4 separate regions of the Homo sapiens genome follow, and all the other regions are linked to region 2. The links come from fine-mapping of genetic effects on gene expression. A gene starts in region 2. Each other region holds a variant in brackets. All regions are shown on one strand. Distances are from middle to middle. Region 1 overlaps HNRNPU (heterogeneous nuclear ribonucleoprotein U). Region 2 holds the start of COX20 (cytochrome c oxidase assembly factor COX20). Region 3 has its middle 28 kb from the start of COX20. Region 4 holds the start of HNRNPU (heterogeneous nuclear ribonucleoprotein U).

Region 1 (5,147 bases), 22 kb before region 2:
CGTAGGCCAGGCTGGTCGCCAACTCTTGACCTCAGGTGATCCACTGTCTCGGCGTCCCAAAGTGCTGGGATTACAGGCATGAGCCACTGTGCCCAGCCTTTTTTTTTCCTTTTTAAAATAGTGACAAGGTCTCACCATGTTGCCCAGGCTGGTCTTGAACTCCTAAGCTCAAGTGATCTGCCCGCCTGAGCCTCTCAGAATGCTGGAATTACAGGTGCTTCATACTGCTAAGTTATCAAAGGTACTTATTTTTGAAGCTTCCTGTAAATTAAAAGAGGAGCTTGGAACCTTCATTTTGTTGTGACAGTTAATCACGGTTGTTATGTTAGAACTTGCCATGCAGAGCTAGGCGATTTTTTATTTAGGGTACTTCATTTTTATCAAGCATTTGAAAGGGCCACCAAAGAGTTAAAAATAAAATTTGGTTACATTACTGCTTTTGTTGGTGAGAAAAACATTAATTGTATCCTTTAATTGGCTTTAAGTTAAAGACTGACAACATGAACTTTAAAAATATTAAGTATTCTTTTAAATATGGGTCAAATAAGTATTTAACTCTTTAAATTTCAAGTTATAAGCACATCAGTTTAAAGTTCTTACAAATATTGGGGGTGGGCTAGAGTGTGCCTTCTTTGTATTTATAGCTAGAGGAAGATTAGCCCGTGGCGCAATGAAATATGCGAGAGTTAAGGGGTTACCTCCTTGGTGTATTATTTTAATTATTTAATGATTTGACTTTCAGGTTACAGAGAAGATCCCAGTAAGGCATTTATATACAAAAGATATTGACATACATGAAGTTCGTATTGGCTGGTCACTAACTACAAGTGGAATGTTACTTGGTAAAGCTTCTTTTTGACTGATGTGGGCTCATGAATGTTCAGGAGGGTCTGATTTCAGTGTTTTTTAACTAGAGGGCATTCTAAGCCTTTTGTCTGTTTTTATCTATTCTGTTAATACTTCAGACAGGTAATATTAGCACATAGTAGGCACAGGCTACATTTTAGTTTTTGTTCCTTTATTAGAAGTTTATGACCAATGGTTGAAATAAAATCTTACCCGTGATATGCAAATCGTCAACTAATTTGGTCTCTGCGTATATATCCCTCCTAACTTCCATCAATTCTGGTACAGAGATAGAAAAGTAATAGTGTCAGTGACAGGTGATTAGGTTATATGCTTATTTCTCTTGTAGCCTACATCTTAAGTAGTAAAATAGATGAGTCTTTGGACTATTTTAAACATCTACTTCATGAAGATTAATTATTTTCTTAGGTGAAGAAGAATTTTCTTATGGGTATTCTCTAAAAGGAATAAAAACATGCAACTGTGAGACTGAAGATTATGGAGAAAAGTTTGATGAAAATGATGTGATTACATGTTTTGCTGTAAGTTAAAGCTAACTTTCTATGTATAAATGGCAAAGTTAGTAGCTATATCTAGGAACTTTAAAGAAGCTTTACTGAGGTCAGTTTTCAATATGAGCAACAAAATACACCAGTCCCTGGATTAGTGTAAAGACTTCATTCAGCAGTTGAATTGGGAAAACACAGGACATTTTTGAGGAACTCACTAATTCATTTTGACTGAAAACAGTGAACATGAAATTGACCTAGAAAATTCAGTCTAGCTTCTAGGTCAGTATTGTTTCTGGTTCTGGAGATACGTGCTTCATGGTTTACAACCATCAGATTTCTTAACTGTGTAGCCCTTAAAGGCCACCTAATAGTTCTTTAACCTGTAGCTTCCACAGGATAAGCTTTGCTCCTAATTTTAATTCTTAGTTTTTTAGAAAGTTTAAGGAAGCAGATTTTAACTGTTGAATTTTTTTCTGTGTAACAGAACTTTGAAAGTGATGAAGTAGAACTCTCGTATGCTAAGAATGGACAAGATCTTGGCGTTGCCTTCAAAATCAGTAAGGAAGTTCTTGCTGGACGGCCACTGTTCCCGCATGTTCTCTGCCACAACTGTGCAGTTGAATTTAATTTTGGTCAGAAGGAAAAGCCATATTTTCCAATACCTGAAGAGTATACTTTCATCCAGAACGTCCCCTTAGAGGATCGAGTTAGAGGACCAAAGGGGCCTGAAGAGAAGAAAGATTGTGAAGTAAGGGATTTTTTTTTTTTTAACTGTGGCATTTGAATATTGCTTGCCTGGCACAAAATGACATTTAGAAGAACTAGATGATTAGTCTGTTTCATTTACTTTGTGCTGTGCATATTGCTCTTAAGTAATTGTTTCCCCCTTATGTTGACTGTTAATCTTTCCATAAACAAATTTTTGTCCGTTAGTGTAAGGGCTATGAAAACTTAGATATTTAAATTGGCCTTAACAATATTTAAAGAATTATTAGGTGGTGTCTACTGACAGTGAAATGACATTTCTTTTCTTTTCACTAGGTTGTGATGATGATTGGCTTGCCAGGAGCTGGAAAAACTACCTGGGTTACTAAACATGCAGCAGAAAATCCAGGGAAATATAACATTCTTGGCACAAATACTATTATGGATAAGATGATGGTAAGTAAAATGTTTAGGGCCTGATCTCAGTGTTTAAAATAGACTGGGAGAGGCTGGGCATGGTGGTTCACGCCTGTAATCTCAGCATTTTGAGAGGCTGAGGTGGATGGATCACCTGAGGTCAGGAGTTTGAGACCCACCTGGCCAACATGGCGAAGCCCCGTTCCTACTAAAAATTTAAAAATTAGCTGGGTGTGGTAGTGGGTTCCTGTAATCCCAGCTGCTCGGGAGGTTGAGGCAGGGACAATTACTTGAACCTGGGAGGCAGAGGTTGCAGTGAGTTGAGATCGTGCCATTGTACTCCAGTCTGGGCGACAGAGCAACACTCCGTCTCAGAAAAAAAAAAAAAAGAAAAGAAAAATTATAGACCGGGAGGTATTCTAGGTAAACTTTTTGTCTTTGTCTCTATCCATTTTGTTAGTATCTTAAAGAGATGGGAGGAAAGGCAAGATTAAGTTGGTTCTTTCAACTCTGAGGGTAAACTGCCTTCCACTGGCTAGGCTTCTGTTTTTTTCCGTAGTGTTTTTGAGCT[C/T]TTAACATCTAGCAGCTAAAAAGAATTGAGTAAGTGTAAGGTCTTGTTACATAGTTTAAGTGACCCTGTTTTTGTAGCAATAATGGACAAAGGTAATATTTAAATTATAAAATGTTGCCTGCTTTACATATAGATATGAGTTGAATTTTAAAAAGCATAACTTATTAAAATTCACAAGTTCAAGGGGAAATTTTAACTTTTGAATATAGGTGGCAGGTTTTAAGAAGCAAATGGCAGATACTGGAAAACTGAACACACTGTTGCAGAGAGCCCCCCAGTGTCTTGGGAAATTTATTGAGATTGCTGCCCGAAAGAAGCGAAATTTTATTCTGGATCAGGTACGCTGTAGCTTTGAAATTGAAAAATATTAACTGATAATTTAGATAGATTGGTGTAGAATTAATGTTTAGGGTTGTAAACATAAATTTCTTTTTTTAAAGACAAATGTGTCTGCTGCTGCCCAGAGGAGAAAAATGTGCCTGTTTGCAGGCTTCCAGCGAAAAGCTGTTGTAGTTTGCCCAAAAGATGAAGACTATAAGCAAAGAACACAGAAGAAAGCAGAAGTAGAGGGGAAAGACCTACCAGAACATGCGGTCCTCAAAATGAAAGGCATGGAATTTTAATTCTGTTACTGTGTGAAATCTTCTTTTTAAAAGAATGTTTTTCCTACATATTCTGCTTGTGTAACTATGTTAAATCTATTAGGACTTAGGCCTCCTGAAAGTTAACATTTTTTCCAGCAATACTGCTTCAGGAATTAAAATTGCAGTTGTTACATATGCATATATGTTTGGTCTGTTTTTATTTTTAGGAAAATATGTTACTAAACCTCAAGAATTGTCAGCTTTAGGATTGTGAGGATTCGTGGTGGGTTTCTAAATTAATAATATGACTTTGTTTCCTGCAGGAAACTTTACCCTCCCAGAGGTAGCTGAGTGCTTTGATGAAATAACCTATGTTGAACTTCAGAAGGAAGAAGCCCAAAAACTCTTGGAGCAATATAAGGAAGAAAGCAAAAAGGCTCTTCCACCAGAAAAGAAACAGAACACTGGCTCAAAGAAAAGCAATAAAAATAAGAGTGGCAAGAACCAGTTTAACAGAGGTGGTGGCCATAGAGGACGTGGAGGATTCAATATGCGTGGTGGAAATTTCAGAGGAGGAGGCAAGTTAATTTTGAGTGTTCTGTATTTAGTTCAGGATCGAAACAAGTGATAATTTTATAGTTTGGATGTAGCTGAAGTTTCTTCCTCATTAATGGTATACTGTCACAGTAACTAAAGTATTCATGTGATTTGATATTAAATACACCTAGGTTATGTTAATGGTTAGAATTAAACATTTCTTTTGTCTTTAAACAATTATTTTTGGAGAAAAAGGAACAATCTAGAGGAATCCTAAGTCTTCTGTATAAGTAGGGTACAATATACAATGAAACTAAAACAGCTCTTGTCTTTTAGCCCCTGGGAATCGTGGCGGATATAATAGGAGGGGCAACATGCCACAGAGAGGTGGTGGCGGTGGAGGAAGTGGTGGAATCGGCTATCCATACCCTCGTGCCCCTGTTTTTCCTGGCCGTGGTAGTTACTCAAACAGAGGGAACTACAACAGAGGTGGAATGCCCAACAGAGGGAACTACAACCAGGTAATGATTCAAGATCCCTGGAAGCATGATTGATAACTGTAGCTTAGTCTGGAAAGGTGTGAGCTTTATGTTGGGGTGTCTTAGTAATCCGTAAGGAACATGATAGGCATTGACATAAGGAAAATTGAACTAGTAATGGTGAAATGAGTCTACTTACTTTTGAGTTTTTTCAGGTGTACTAAACAAGTCAGATGCATTTCTCATAATGAATAAAAAATTAAAACATAAGAAACCAGCAGAGGGTATCCAGAATTTGTGTATTGCTTGCTACCTAAGATTAGGGGCTAGCAACCTGTCCATTTCTGCTCCTCTCTCTCACCCCCACAAACCTAACAAGCAATTGGGCTCAGAGCTCTTAGAGAGTATTTCCTTTTTGTAGAACTTCAGAGGACGAGGAAACAATCGTGGCTACAAAAATCAATCTCAGGGCTACAACCAGTGGCAGCAGGGTGTA
Region 2 (5,147 bases):
TAGTACCTCGTTCAGTGTCTAATACTCAGTAGGTACTCTAAATATTTTTTGAATGGGTGAATTAAGAATTTACCTGAATGTGAATTTACCTGTATGTACCAAATTTCACATTTTAAAGTTTCTTAAAGGACAAGAATGTGGCAGAGGACAGTTTTTAGGGGCTAGTTCTATCAAGGTATGCCAGCTTGGTAACTCCCATTTTTACTTTAGGTTTGCTAATTCTTATAATAAAATAATCCTCCCTGGGTTGTGCTGGAATGATCACTGACAAATTCTTTTAAAAAAAATAACCGCAGGCTTCCTTTCTGACAGCACCTTGGGCTGTTAATTCATCATAGCTTCTATTAATTTAATTAGCTTTTTGATGGGCTCTGATAGGTACTACTGTTTCATGAGCAATTTTTGTTTTTTTGGCCTCCCACCTCTGACTGTGCTCGGTTTGAGGCTTATAACTATCTTCATTTCAACAACTACAGTATTGTTTTGCTACTTACTGATGGGCCAGTTAAATAGGTCAATGTTGATCCTCTTTTAAGTTTTTTTTTTTTAATTTCCAATGGATTAAACCACCTTTATGACCTTTAAAAACAGCAGTTATCTCCTACCAAAAGTCCCATTCAGGATTCCAGTGTTTATCACAAAACTGAATCTAGGATTTACTGTGTGTATGCAAAGATCTTTTTTTTTTTTTAAACACTAAGCTTATTCCAGATGGGCAGTGTATGGGACAGTAAAAACAGATAAGGCACCAGTAGTACGTAAACTGACAACCTGTTGGATATTAAGTATGAAAACAATTTATACAATATTTGTTAATATTAACCATATGATCTGATGTCATGGCCAAATTTGGATGGAAGCCCACCAGAGAAGCAAGCAAGAGCAAGAAGTGAGCAGAATTTCCAAGCTGGGAGAATATCTTAAGTATATATTAGGAGCCATTTAGCACACAGTGGGTCTTCTATAAATATTTGCTCGTGATTAGCCAATGTTACGATCTCCCTAGTTTATATTAAACTTTTTTCCTCTTGCATTATTCTTTTCTGAATACCTGTTCTGCCCTGAGGATATAAATTAGGTTCCCTGCTCTTAATAAGGAGCCCAGGAAAAGAGGAAAACAAGATCATTTATTACCTTCCAATATGATAAATGTAACGACGTACAAGATGCCTGGGAAGATGGGGAAAGTACGTAAGTCAGCTTTGGTGAAACACAGGAGCCCTTCCAGGGAGAGCGCTTGGTTTAGCTTTACTATACCAAGAATTTGGGTTTTATCCTTAAAGAGATAGGATGGGCTGCTACGACTGGATGTTAGGCAGAGGAATGAAAACTGTCCAGTTTACAGGCTGGAAAGGGCCAGCGGACAATAGTGGAAGGTGGATTCAGGAGAGTATGGAGACAGGGACACCAGCTAGGGAGGCTACTGGTGATGGGGAAGAAATCTTAACCCTTCATCTCATCGTAGTACAATCAAGTCATCCCTCAGCAATTACTCCTATGTTAAATGTGATGAATACAACGTGTTAAAGACAAGGCACCTGTCCTCAACGGAGCTTTAATCTCTACTATTAGCCTTTACTAACAAATTACAGTGCAGTGCCCTTAGCAGCAAAATTTTCTCGCCAAAGATTCAGTATTGTTAGCTTATTTCATAATGACCTGTAGTAAGTCATTAGTACTACTGGTCCCCTCCTCCCCCTAGTTTTGGTCAATTTTGTCCCGGCCACTTAGATTAAAATGTTGGAGGCTTGGGATAAGGACTAGGAACAGTTAAAATAGTTTCAAGCCCATGGGTGGCAGAGAAGCCAGTGACACGTGCTCCGGGCCTAGGAGCTCCGCGGAGAACGTCCTTACCCACCGCCCACCCGCGGCGCGCGCCCCGCCGACCCCCAGGTTACCTTCCTCTCCTCGGGCTCACCGGGCTCCGGCGGGGCGGCCATGAGGACTACTCCGCGACTCCACCCGCCCTGCACCGCCGGGGTCGCGGAAGCAGAAGCCCGGCTGGCCGCGCCCCTCCCCGTCCCGCCCCCACGCGCCGCCGCCTCCCGCCCTGTTCCGACGCGCCGGCCGCCATTTTAGGGAATGTTCCTAACGCTCCGCAGTGGCCGCACGGGGCCGGGCTGTCATGTCCTTTGTTCCGTCGAACGGGTCACACTTTCTTCCAAGCTCGGCACACAGCCTGCAGGGGCGGGAGAGCGGAAGGAGATGGGTTCGGAAAACAAACCGACTCCTAGATTCCTGGCGAGGTGGGGGCGTAACCGAGCCAGACAGCCCCGCTTCCCGCGCCAGCCCCCTGCTCCGCCCCAACCGCCATTTCTAACCGTCTCCGGCGCGCGTGCTCACACGCACGAGCCTCGGGCGCGCGCCGAGGGGCGGGGCCGCTGCTTTGTCCTGCGGGGTGGGCCCCACCGCGGGGGTCGGCCCGGCCCCAGCCCCCAGCCCGCCCCAGCCCACCGACCCGGAAGGCGCTCCGCGCTGGCTCGGCGGCCCTCGTCCCCTAAGTGTCCTTTGTCCTTCCGGCCACGGGACGAGCCCTTGGTGCCGGGGCAGCCCCACTCTGCACCAGCAGCCATTTAGTCCCCCGCGCCTGCCTTGCGCAAACGGGGCTCCCACGCCCACCCCACTTCCTCCCTTTTATAGTTTCATTACTAAGTGGCTTTAACATAGAACCGCGCAGTTCGCCTAAAGGAGACTGGGGACAAAATGGAGGGAGCAGCTCGCTAATGAACATGCGTCAGCACGTTGGTGTCCGCGGAGAGGGCGCGCGTGTGGCGAAGTCTTCCGGCGTCCCCGAAGGAAAAATGCCTCTGCAACGTGCATTTTTGATGTGAAGTCGTGTTCCACGTTTCACTCCTCCCTAAGACTGCGACATAACGTGAAACAAAATACTGCATATTGTCGAGCTCAATGGAGAACGCGTGCATGCAGGGTCGAGCCCATTTTTCAGCCATCAAAATAATACAATGCAATTTTTTCTAGTATTTATAATTTTTCCCCTTTAACTTTATGCCTCCTTTATGTACTTCTACATTTCACGTTTAGGTTATATGTAACCTAAGGGCACTCCTTAGGAAACTGGACTTGTAGAATATGTCATTGTGCAAAGTCATGCTGCTTCGAATTATGCTGCGCGCTGGCACACAGCAAGCGCTCAGTGTTAACGATGTCGAATTCATATTAAGTACTGTTCATTGGGCGTTTTCTTACTCCGTAAGGACCTTACTTGCATGCCCATTTGATACCTTTCTACAATCCCAGTAAAATACACAGTTAAGGTTGTGTATTTATGTGTCACATTTTTTTTTTTGAGGTTTTTTTTTGCGGGGGCGGGGGGGGTTTTTTTGTTTTTGTTTTTGAAATTGTAGTTAGAAACTACATACTGTGCCGGGCGCGGAGGCTCACGCCTGTAATCCCAACACTTTGGGGGCTGAGGCGGGCGGATCACGAGGTCAGGAGTTCGGGACCAGCCTGGTCAACTTGGTGAAACCTCGCCTCTACTAAAAATACAAAAATTAGCCTGGCGTGGTGGGGGGCGCCTGTAATCCCAGCTACTCGGCAGCCTGAGGAAGGAGAATAGCTTGAAAACGGAAGGCGGAGGTTGCAGGGAGCCGAGATCGTGCCACTGTACTCCAGCCTGGGAGAAAGAGCGAAACTCCGTCTGGGCGGGGGGAGAAACTACATACTGCTCTACTGTTTGCTAGGGAAAAGAAAAAAAGTCACCCTACTGGTGATATCCTGCCAATTCTGGATTCTCTGCTGAAATTATAATGCTAACTATGCTTTGAACTCCGGATCTGAAAGGCCGTGTTGAAGGTAGTAATATTCCATGAAGGAGGGGGAAATCCTTTTGAAGTCATTGTTGATTATGTTGTAAAAGGAAAACTGGAAAAGTACCAGCTAAAACACCACCGAGTCATCCTATTTTATTTTTATTATGACTTTGAAAATTTGCTAGAGTAGACATTGTTGGGGTCTATTTCATTTGTCTTTGAAAAGTATTTTCATAAGGATGATTTATTTTTTATTTTTTATTTTTTTTGAGACAGAGTCTCACTTTGTCGCTCAGGCTGGAGTGCAGTGGCGCAATCTCAGCTCACTGCAACCTCTGCCTCCCGGGTTCAAGTGATTCTCCTGCCTCAGCTTCCTGAGTAGCAGCTGGGATTACAGGCGCCTGCCACCACACCCGGCTAATTTTTGTATTTTTAGTAGAGAAAGGGTTTCACTATGTTGGCCAGGCTGGCCTCAAACTCCTGACCTCAGGTGATACGCCTGCCTCTGGTTTCCAGAGTGCTGGGATTACAGGCGTGAGCCACTGCGCCTGGCCTATTTTAAAATTTTTATTTTCACAAAATTGCATATAATATTTCCATTTTTAATTGTTTAACAGTTATAGAAAGGAAAGTAAAAATCTCAGTTCTTTCTCTCCTTTTTAAGGTAAATATAACTAACAGTTTGATGTCTCTCTTTTCAAACTCTTCTTTATCCTTCTTAAAAACAATTATTTGTAGAGACGGGAGGTGGGGGATGGTGTGTCACTTTGTTGCCCAGGCTGGTCTCAAACTCCTGGACTAAAGTGATCCTCCTGTCTCACCCTCCCAAAGTGCTGGGATTACAGACATGAGCTATGGCACCCGGCTTTTTCTTAATTAAATATTATTACACGAGGCCGGGCACGGTGGCTCATGCCGGTAATCCTAGCACTTTGGGAGGCCGAGGTGGGTGGATCAGCTGAGGTCAGGAGTTCAAGACCAGCCTGGCCAGCATGGCAAAACCCTGTCTCTACTAAAAATACAAAAATTAGCTGGGCATGGTGGCACACACCTGTAATCCCATCTTGGGAGGCTGAGGCAGGAGAATCGCTTGAACCCAAGAGGTGGAGGTTGTGGTGAGCCGAGATCGTGCCATTGCACTCCAGCCTGGGCAGCAAGAGCGAAACTTCGTCTCAAAAACAAAAAAAAATTATCCCACGAATACCTATATTTTGTCTTAATTAAAACAACACTGGAATATATGGGGTAAATAATGAAAGGCTCTATGTCACACTTGCCTCCACGCTTATGTATACATGTATCTGTATGTGATACACGCTGAAATGACACTGTACCACATCATTTGCATTCAGTAATTTACTTTTTGCCATATATCTG
Region 3 (5,147 bases), 28 kb after region 2:
CATAGAGAGATGAGATCCTGTCTCTACAAAAAAATAATTTAAAAAGAGAGAGAGAGGCCAGGCGTGGTGGCTGACGCCTGTAATCCCAGCACTTTGGGAGGCCAAGGCGGGTGGATGAGGTCAGGAGTTCGAGACCAGCCTGACCAACATGGTGAAACCCCGTCTCTACTAAAAATACAAAAATGAGGCCGGGTGCGGTGGCTCACGTCTGTAATCCCAGCACTTTGGGAGGCCGAGGCAGCCGGATCATGAGGTCAGGAGATCGAGACCATCCTGGCTAACAAGGTGAAACCCCGTCTTTACTAAAAATACAGAAAATTAGACAGGCGTGGTAGCTGGCGCCTGTAGTCCTAGCTACTCGGGAGGCTGAGGCAGGAGAATGGTGTGAACCTGGGAGGAGGAGCTTGCAGTGAGCCGAGATCGCGCCACTGCACTCCAGCTGGGGCGACAGACCGAGACTCCGTCTCAAAAAAAAAAAAAAAAAAAAAAATTAGCCGGGCGTGGTGGTGTGCACCTGTAATCCCAGCTACTCAGGAGGCTGAGGCAGGAGAATCGCTTGAACCCAGCAGGCAGAGGTTGCAGTGAGCAGAGATCATGCCATTGCACTCCAGCCTGGGCAACAAGAGCAAGGCTCTGTCTCAAAAAAAAAAAGAGAGAGAGAGAGAAATAACTTCGATGTTATTATTATATCTAATAAAATTACCAATATGTTCACATTTCCCTGTACATCTCTAAAATGTCTTTTTATAATTGCTTCATTCAAATTAGGACCCAGATAAGTGCCACAAAGTGGCTTTGGTTGCAGCCTCTTTTAAGCCTATTTTATTTTATTTTAATTTGAGATGAAGTCTCTGTTGCCCAGGTTGGAGTGCAGTGGCACGATCTCGGCTCACTGCAACCTCTGCCTCCTGGGTTCAAGTGATTCTCCTTCCTCAGCCTCCTGAGTAGCTGGGATTATAGGCATGTGCTACCATACCCGGCTGATTTTTGTATTTTTAGTAGAGATGGGGTTTTACCATGTTGGCCAGGCTGGTCTCCAACTCCTGACCTCAGGTGATCCACCCACCTCAGCCTCCCAAAGTGCTGGGATTACAGGTGCGAGCCACTGCACCCAGCCTTTTAAGCCTATTTTAATCACTCCTCTTACCTGCCATTCCCCAATGTCATTTATTTATTTATTTATTTTTGAGACAGAGTCTTGCTCTGTTGTCCAGGCTGGAGAGCAGTGGCACAATCTCGGCTCACTGCAACCTCCATCTCCCGGGTTCAAGTGATTCTCCTGCCTCAGCCTCCTGAGTAGCTGGAATTACAGGTGCCCATCACGCCTGGCTAATTTTTGTATTTTTAGTAGAGATGGGGTTTCACCATGTTGGCTAGACTGGTCTCGAACTCCTGACCTCAGGTGATTCGCCCACCTCGCCTCCCAAAGTGCTGAGATTACAGGCGTGAGCCACCATGCCTTGCCCCATGTCATTTATTTTTGAAGAAACCAGGTCATGCCTGTAGAATTTCCCTACGTCGGATTCAGCTGACTGATTTCTGTTGTGTCATTGTGTTTTTCCTCTATTGTCCATATTTCCCATAAACTGGTAGGCAGCGCTAGAAGCTTGATTCCATTCAGATCTAATTTTGTTGGTGAGCACATGTCATAGAGGTGCCATCTACTTCCTGTTCCTCACTCTCAAAAACTGGTCAGTGGGTTGAGGTGGTGTCAGTCTGATCCCCCATTACAGTTTCTCTATAACCTTTTGCCTGATGTTTTAGTAGCTGTTGATGATTGTTGCCTAAATACATTATTTCATTAGTTGCTACCATTACTTCTGGATTTACTAACTGGATTTTCATTTAAAAAGAACTTTCCTGGCTGGGCATGGTGGCTCATGCCTGTAACCCCAGCACTTTGGGAGGCTGAGGCGGGTAGATCACCTGAGGTCAGGAGTTCAAGATCAGCCTGACCAACATGGAGAAATCTCGTCTGTACTAAAAATACAAAATTAGCTGGGCATGGCGGTGCATGCCTGTAATCCCAGCTACTCGGGAAGCTGAGGCAGGAGAATCGCGTGAACCCGGGAGGCAGAGGTTCCAGTGAGCCAAGATCGCGCCATTGCACTCCAGCCTGGGCAACAAAGTGAGACTCCGTCTCAAAAAAAATAAGTAAATAAAAATAAAGAC[C/T]TTTCCTTCATTAACTCTTTGGTTACTTTGAAACACAGACTCCTGGGCATGTGGCTCATGCCTGTAATCCCAGTGTTTTGGAGGCTGAGGTGGGAGAATCACTTGAAGCCAGGAGCTTGAGACCAGCCTGGGCAACATAATAAGACCCCATCTCTCTAAAAAGAGGAAAGAAAGAAAAAGAGAGAAAGAAGGAAGGAAGGGAGGAAGGAAGGAAGGGGAGCAAGCAAGGGAGAGAAAGAAAAAGAAGAAAGAAAGAAAAAGAAAGAAGAAAGAAAGAAAAGAACTTAGAAAGAAAAGAAAAGAAAACAAAGAAAGATGCAGAGTATATAGGAAGACACAGGATAAATGCTTGACTCACTCCTTTCATTTGCCAATTTTCAGCATAATGTGTTGGTCCCTCAGCAACCTCCAAAGACAACAATGAGGGATTTTTCATGGGGGTGGAGAGGACTTGATATAATGATATATCATTACATTGTATATAAATTTAATATAAATTTTTATGTATATTTTATATAAATTTTATAATTTTGTTGTTTTCCATCCATTATAGTGATTATTCTTTTTGATGCTGAAATTATTCCATTTTTTACTTCATCCAATTAGTTCCTGTATCTTTGATAAGACTCAAGAGGTCTTTAATAGTTTCCTTCCTTCTTTGATAAGATTCAAGAGGTCTTTAATAGTTTCCTTCCTTCCTTTTTTTTTCTATTTATTTAAATTTTAAAAACTTGTTGTTTCCCCCCAGTGGCTCCTTATGGACCCAAGCTCTCTTACTTTCTGACACAAAGGCTATCCCTGGAACATCTTGTACATTTTCTTTTCTTTTTTCCTTTTTTTTTTTTTTTTGAGATGGAGTCTCACCCGGTCACCCAGGCTGGAGTGTGATCTCGGCTCACTGCAACCTCCGCCTCCCGCATTCAAGTGATTCTCCTGCCTCAGTCTCCCAAGTAGCTGGGATTACAGGCCTGCACCACCATGCCTCGCCAATTTTTTGTATCTTTAGTAGAGACGGGGTTTCACCATGTTGGCCAGGTTGGTCTCAAACTCCTGACTTCGTGATCTGCCCACCTCAGCCTCCTGCAGTGCTGGGATTACAGGCGTGAGCCACCACACCCGGCCTCTCCTAGTGGATATAGTATTTGGAACCCAAGAACCAGGCCCCAGGAGAGCTCACTGCTACTGAGAGCCATTTCGTCTAGGCTCTTTCAGTGGGCAGAGGTAGAAAAAAGTTTCAAAAATCATGAATTCATATTTATATTCAAATTAGGATATTTACAATCTAGGCACTAAGAATAGTCATTGCTAGTAGGTGTCATTGCTTTTTTTTTTTTCTCGAGATGGAGTCTCACTCTGTCACCCAGGCTGGAGTGCTGTGGCGCAATCTCAGCTCACTGCAAACTCCTGGCCTCCCGGGTTCAAGAGATTCTCTTGCCTCTGCCTCCCGAGTAGCTGGGATTACAGCTGCCCTCCACCACTCCCGGCTAATTTTCGTATTTTTTGGTAGAGATGGAGTTTCACCATGTTGGCCAGGCTGGTCTTGAACTCCTGACCTCAAGTGATCTGCTCGCCTTAACCTCCCAAAGTGCTGAGATTACAGGTGTGAGCCACCGCGCCCGGCCAGGTGTCATCGCTTCTTGTTCTTTTTCGGTAGAGTTACCGTCATTAAATGAAACACACATTAATGGGTTGCAGGGGTCTCACTTTCATGTTCTTTTCCATTCTGCTGTGTTATTTGTCCATAATAACCCTACAACACATATAATATTTAAGTCTAGAACTTAATGGGACAACTTGGGTGAATCTCAGAAATAGAAGGTTGAATGAAAAGAAAGGAGACAGAAAAATGTGTACACTGTAGGTTACCATTTATCCAAAGTTAAAAAACAGGCCGGGCGAGGTGGCTTACGCCTGTAATCCCAGCACTTTGGGAGGTTGTGGCAGGCGGATCCCTTGAGGTTAGGAGTTGGAGACCAGCCTGGCTAACATGGTGAAACCCCAACTCTACTAAAAACACAAAAATTAGCCGGGCATGGTGGCGGGCGCCTGTCATCCCAGCTACTTGGGAGGCTGAGGCAGGAGAATCGCTTGATCCTGGGAGGCCAGGAGGTTGCAGTGAGCCGAGATTGCGCCATTGCACTCCAGCCTGGGCGACAGAGTGAGACTTCATCTTAAGAAAAAAAAAAAAAGCAATGACACCTACTAGCAATGCCTATCCTTAGTGCCTAGATTGTAAATGTCCTAATTTGAATATTAATATGAATTCATGATTTTTGAAACTTTTTTTCTACCTCTGCCCAGGAGGCAGGAGAATCGCTTGAATCTGGGAGGCAGAGGTTGCAGTGAGCCAAGATTACACCATTGCACTCCAGCCTGGGTGACAGAATGAGACTCTGTCTCAGGAAAACAAAACAAAACAAAACAAAGAAAACCTGAAAAAACAAAAACAAAAACAAGTCCGAAATTCAAAAACAAAAATCTATGCCCCAGAAGTTGGAAGGCGGGGTCAGTGAACGGGAGGGCCACAGTGCTGGGCGCCGGGAATGTTCTTTCTGTGGGTGTTGATCGCAGATGCGTGCTCACTTTGTAAAAGGTCATCTAGCTGTACACTTATGATTTGGGCACTGTTCCCTGTGTATACTTTATTAAAGATGTACTCTAGGAAGATTGAACCTGTGTTAAATCCCAGTCCCTAATCTAAGCGTAGTCTCTTCATAATTTTGTTTTGTTTTGTTTGGAGATGGAGTCTCGCCCTGTTGCCCAGGCTGGAGTGCAGCGGCACGATCTTGTCTCACTGCAACCTCCACCTCCTGGGTTCAAGCAGTTCTCCTGCCTCAGCCTCCCGAGTCACTGGGATTACAGGCGAGCACCAACTATGCCCGGCTAATTTTTGTATTTTTGGTAGAGATGGGGTTTCGCTGTGTTGGCCAGGTTGGTCTTGAACTCCTGACCTCAAGTGATCTGCCCACCTTGGC
Region 4 (5,146 bases), 30 kb before region 2:
TGGGGTTTCAACATGTTGGCCAGGCTGGTCTCGAACTCCTGACCTCAGGTGATCTGCCCACCTCAGCCTCCCAAAGTGCTGGGATTACAGGTGTGAGCCACCACTCCCGATCTTGTTTTTTGTTTTGTTTTGTTTTTTTTGGGGGGCGGGGGGGAATGAGAATATTTAACGTAAGATCTTAACGGGTTTTTTTCTTTTTCTTTCTTTTTTCTTTTTTTTTTTTTTTGAGACAGGGTCTCCCTCTGTGGTCCAGGTTAGAGTGCAGTGGTACAATCACGGCTCACTGCAGCCTTGACTGCCGGGGGTCAAGTGATCCTGCTACCTCAGCCCCTTGAGTAGCTCGGACTACAGGCGTACCACCACAGCCACCTAATTTTAATTTTTTGTGGAGATGGAGTCTCACTGTGTTCCTCAGGCTGGTTTCGAACTCCTGGCCTCAAGCCATCTTCCCATCTCGGCCTCTCGAAGTGCTGGGATTACAGACATGAGCCGCTGGGCCTGGCCAGCAAATTTTTAAGTGCAGGATACTTTGTTAACTGTAGATCTCTGGAACTGCCTCATCGTTATGACTATAAAATGTTTTTGAGAAAGTATTGAAAAAATATTTGCTGAATAAATTGTGTGACAAAGTATAGCATTTCCTTTGCTTAAACCTCAAAAATGTAAGCTAGACATGCAGAGCACCAAAACTTTGTAGTTACCTCTCACAGATCAATTATTCATAGGTCATTCTTGAATCATTTTTTGTTATTGAGAATTAACTTGTCTCCTCCGGCACGCGGTATTCTTGGTAGCCTCTAGGATTTGACACAGGGGGAATTTAAATTGTCTTAGAGGTCCTTCAGAGATTTACAGGAAGTGACCTGCACTTTAACAGGTCTCTGTAGAGCAGGACTATCATGATAGCATTAAAAATATAAGAAGCAAAAATGATCAATAAGATGTCACCATTTGTACTTTGAAGTGGTAACATAAGACTATGGAATGGCATATTTCCTCTGTTTGTGAAAAGGATAGTATGATGATGGTTCTTTGAGCAGAAATTGTTTTTCTTTCAAATGTTGTCTAAGACAGCACAATGTAATAGAAAGCCCATTGGTGTGGGGGGTGAGGGTCCCAGCTTCCTGGGCAGTAAAATGAACAGGACTGCAGATCGATCTCCAGGCCCCATCCAGCTCTAAAGTTCTCCAAAACTTTTGGAGATAAAGCCATAGAACTTTCTTGTGAGCATCAAAAGTTGTATTTCATGTTTATTTTTGCAACTGACTTAATGTTCCAAGAGTGACTGTTACAGATCTACTATATGTAGATATACAATCTTTGTTTTCATAGTTTAGTGTTTTCCAGTAAATGAAATTTGTTTTCATATAACTAATATTTAAAGGTGTAAATAATATCTAGGACACATAAATTTAAGGAACCATCATAATTGTATTTAACTCTGATTCATTAAGGGATTAGTTATCTAGTTTGTGAACATGTAAACCCCCTGTAGCTCTCTTCCCATTTCTGAACGAAGACAAAATTTCAAATTCCAGTTTGTGGCTTATTCATAACCTTCAAAATTATAACCAAAGGCTAAAATGAGTTTCTGGCACTGTTTGGAAGTTTCTATTTTGGGGGCTATCCTCACCACTTAACTTGAACTGGGGATTATCAGTAGTACTGTACATAGTCCATTAATTTCAAGTCAAATCATTTCACAAGTGTTAATATTTCACGTATACATGACTGCAAGGTATGGTAGAATGCTTCATAAAAGCTACCGAAAATAAACTTCAAAAATAAAATGTATCAATTAGTTAAATCATATTAGCCTATGGGAGAAATTTCAATGTGTTTACTTCCAAATTTCAAATTAATAATGGGGCAATATTATTGTGCCACCTAGAGCACCAAACAGTGGGTATAAACCATCTCCTTAGTCAGATGGAACACTGGCTGGACACTGCAGATTATCTAGGGTTTAAAATGTTAACTTCTATCACGAATCTAAATTCTGACTTCCCTATCTAAAACTTCGAGACATCACATCTTTTCTTTAAAGAGAAAAAGTAAACTTCTAACATATAAAATAACGGATTTCAAGAGCGATAGTCCATTTTTCTTTTTACAAAATCACAGCCCTTGATTTTTCGTAAACTTTAAGTTTCAGAATAATTTGGTCAAGAGTATTTCTACAGGAATAGGAAGAGAATCAAGTGGGCCTATAATCAAAGACCTAGTTGGGTCTCACCCTCACGGTTAGCTACTGGGACTTCGTAGCTGATGACCAGGTCCTAAAGTGGACAGAACAAGTGTTACTGGAGGTCCGTCTTTGTGGTAGCTACAGAAAACTTGGAAATGCAATTCTGAGGTTTATTCAGGGTTATTAAGAGCATGAGAATAGCTGCCCTGCAAAGGCAGGTACACTAAGGTTTGCAGTATGGAGTAGTAAGCAAAGCCTCTACTTCCCAGGCCCCGCACCCGGGGTGTGGAACAGACAAAAGAACGGTTCTGCCCTTGCCCTTCTCGAACTTAAAATCCAATTCGCAAGGCAGGACTTACACAAATTAAACCAAATACGGTATTATGAGGAAAAGAGCCGCTGCGTGTAACAGTTGCCAATGTATGCTATACCAGTCAAAACTGAAATACGATTTGAAGGAGTTTTAAACGAAGAGCTGGAGAAACACATAAGAAGGCAGATCTAAGATGGAAGAAAAGGCGGATTCGGGTTGAAACGCCAAGTTGAGGACTGAAGAAAGCATTTGGATAAAGCAGCCTCCAAGCTGGGAAGGAGAAAAGCCAAACGAGTATAGCCACCAAAGACCCAGAAAGGCCAATATATCATGCAGTGAGTCGGTTGAACTGAAAGGCGGTTTCCTTTTCCTCCATTTGCTCAGTCCCAATTGGAAGCGC[A/C]CTGCGCGGCCTCCACCGCGCTCTCGGCCCGGGTTCGGCGTGGGGGCGGGGAGGTAAGTACGGTAATGGGCGGGGCCGAGCGCGGGCGCGCTCCGGCTTTCCTCCTGCGCAGTGCTCCCGTCAGCGCAGGGGGCGGGGCGCCTATATTACGTGCGCGGCGCCGCTCCTGCGAGAGGACGTTGCGTGCTCGCTCGCGCCAGGCGAGTCTCCGCGTCTCCCTCGCGAACTCGGTGAAAGGAATTGGCGCCGTTCGACACCAGGCGGATCCGCTCTGCAGCACGAACCCATCTCCAGCCGCAGCCGCAGCCGCCGCCCGGGCCGAGGAGCAGCCGCAGCAGCCGCCACCAGTGGCCGAGTGAGCGGAGCCGAGTTTGAGGCAGCGCCTAGCGGTGAATCGGGGCCCTCACCATGAGTTCCTCGCCTGTTAATGTAAAAAAGCTGAAGGTGTCGGAGCTGAAAGAGGAGCTCAAGAAGCGACGCCTTTCTGACAAGGGTCTCAAGGCCGAGCTCATGGAGCGACTCCAGGCTGCGCTGGACGACGAGGAGGCCGGGGGCCGCCCCGCCATGGAGCCCGGGAACGGCAGCCTAGACCTGGGCGGGGATTCCGCTGGGCGCTCGGGAGCAGGCCTCGAGCAGGAGGCCGCGGCCGGCGGCGATGAAGAGGAGGAGGAAGAGGAAGAGGAGGAGGAAGGAATCTCCGCTCTGGACGGCGACCAGATGGAGCTAGGAGAGGAGAACGGGGCCGCGGGGGCGGCCGACTCGGGCCCGATGGAGGAGGAGGAGGCCGCCTCGGAAGACGAGAACGGCGACGATCAGGGTTTCCAGGAAGGGGAAGATGAGCTCGGGGACGAAGAGGAAGGCGCGGGCGACGAGAACGGGCACGGGGAGCAGCAGCCTCAACCGCCGGCGACGCAGCAGCAACAGCCCCAACAGCAGCGCGGGGCCGCCAAGGAGGCCGCGGGGAAGAGCAGCGGCCCCACCTCGCTGTTCGCGGTGACGGTGGCGCCGCCCGGGGCGAGGCAGGGCCAGCAGCAGGCGGGAGGTAAGAAGAAGGCGGAAGGCGGCGGAGGCGGCGGTCGCCCCGGGGCTCCGGCGGCGGGTGAGTGCTGCGTTGTACGTTGCGCGCGGCGGGAGGCCCGCGCGGGGTGGGGACCGTGCCCCAGGCCTGCCGGAGCCCCGCAGGGGGAGGGAGCCCCGGGCGGGAGGGCGCCGCGGTGAGGGTGGGGGAGGGGGCGCGGGGAATCCCAGATTAGCCGAGAGGCCTCGGGCTCGGGGCGTGTGTGTGCGCGCGCGCGTGTGTGTGTGTGTGTGTGTGTGTGTCGGCGGTGGCAGCGCCTCCATTATGTGGCTCGAGAGCCGGGGGGAGCTGCAGCTGCCGCTGTAGGGGGAGGAGCCGCGGGCGGGCGGCGGGAGGGAGCCCGGTCGGCCCGCGGTGGCGCCGTCGCGCTGCGTGCGCGCGGTGCGGGCACATGTCTCGGGGGGAGGGGAGAGGCCCCAGGTCCCGGGGCGGGCGCGCTTTGGCGGCTCCTCGCCGCTGTATTGTGCAAGGAGCGCAGGGGCTCGGCGTGACGTCACTTCCGGCGGGAGGAGCCGGGCGGGGCGGGGCGGGGGGCGGAAGATCAGTACAATGCGGCCGCGGGGAGCGCGGGCCCGCGGGGGAGGGGAGCGCCGCCGCGCCGGGCTCGGCCCCTCCCCCTCTCTGCGCTCTCTTCGGGATACACGTGGGCTTCGGGCCTGGGCCGCGCAGTTTTTCTTTGGCTTTCTCGAATCATCGAGGAGACTGGCAAAATTAGTAATGTCTTTAGACTGCGTCACTAGCGCCAATCGAATTCGTAGTTGATTGTTCTTTGAATTCACATTTGAGTCCTCGGTTAAAACCTCAGTTAAAAAGCAGGATAAAGTCGAGCTGCTTTGGTTCTCGGAACGGAAAAGCGTTTTTTTGTTGTTTAGAGGCTTGGCCTTTATGGGGCTCGTGTGTGTTTTAGGGGACGGCAAAACAGAACAGAAAGGCGGAGATAAAAAGAGGGGTGTTAAAAGACCACGAGAAGATCATGGCCGTGGATATTTTGAGTACATTGAAGAGAACAAGTATAGCAGGTATAGGATGCTCACCTAGTTTTACTCATCCCTTATTCGTTCGTTGATCGGAAAGCTGTATCAGGAGACAATTCTGTCTTTCAGAGCCAAATCTCCTCAGCCACCTGTTGAAGAAGAAGATGAACACTTCGATGACACAGTGGTTTGT

The links.
Region 1: its variant is fine-mapped to the expression of COX20 in whole blood (INTERVAL, PIP 0.93).
Region 3: its variant is fine-mapped to the expression of COX20 in B cells (Fairfax 2012, PIP 0.95).
Region 4: its variant is fine-mapped to the expression of COX20 in monocytes (TOPMed, PIP above 0.99). The same link has a PIP of 0.9 or more in T cells.

Annotation. Positions count from the first base shown.
Region 1 is chr1:244,854,970-244,860,116 of GRCh38, reverse strand. It overlaps HNRNPU (heterogeneous nuclear ribonucleoprotein U), which reads left to right. Exons shown (of 14, transcript NM_031844.3): 5 at 743-842; 6 at 1,276-1,388; 7 at 1,843-2,106; 8 at 2,400-2,519; 9 at 3,261-3,389; 10 at 3,492-3,660; 11 at 3,959-4,213; 12 at 4,509-4,693; 13 at 5,073-5,144. Among named protein-coding and RNA genes, the nearest start is that of SNORA100, 3.3 kb to the right of the region's middle. The variant C/T (reference allele first, on the strand shown) is at 3,052.
Region 2 is chr1:244,832,508-244,837,654 of GRCh38, reverse strand. COX20 (cytochrome c oxidase assembly factor COX20) reads right to left here and starts at 1,997. Exons shown (of 4, transcript NM_198076.6): 1 at 1,899-1,997. The coding sequence starts at 1,940. RefSeq lists silencers at 1,644-1,933, 1,974-2,023, 2,264-2,603 and enhancers at 2,104-2,223, 2,764-2,823, 3,327-4,086.
Region 3 is chr1:244,804,590-244,809,736 of GRCh38, reverse strand. No RefSeq gene overlaps it. Among named protein-coding and RNA genes, the nearest start is that of COX20, 28 kb to the left of the region's middle. RefSeq lists an enhancer at 117-617. The variant C/T (reference allele first, on the strand shown) is at 2,173.
Region 4 is chr1:244,862,471-244,867,616 of GRCh38, reverse strand. It overlaps HNRNPU (heterogeneous nuclear ribonucleoprotein U), which reads left to right and starts at 3,074. Exons shown (of 14, transcript NM_031844.3): 1 at 3,074-4,000; 2 at 4,887-4,998; 3 at 5,083-5,146. The coding sequence starts at 3,310. It overlaps LOC124904588 (UPF0764 protein C16orf89-like), which reads left to right. Exons shown (of 4, transcript XM_047439568.1): 3 at 2,886-2,954; 4 at 3,031-3,135. The coding sequence ends at 3,135. RefSeq lists enhancers at 2,645-2,704, 2,038-2,868, 2,869-3,700 and silencers at 2,925-3,024, 4,005-4,684. The variant A/C (reference allele first, on the strand shown) is at 2,902.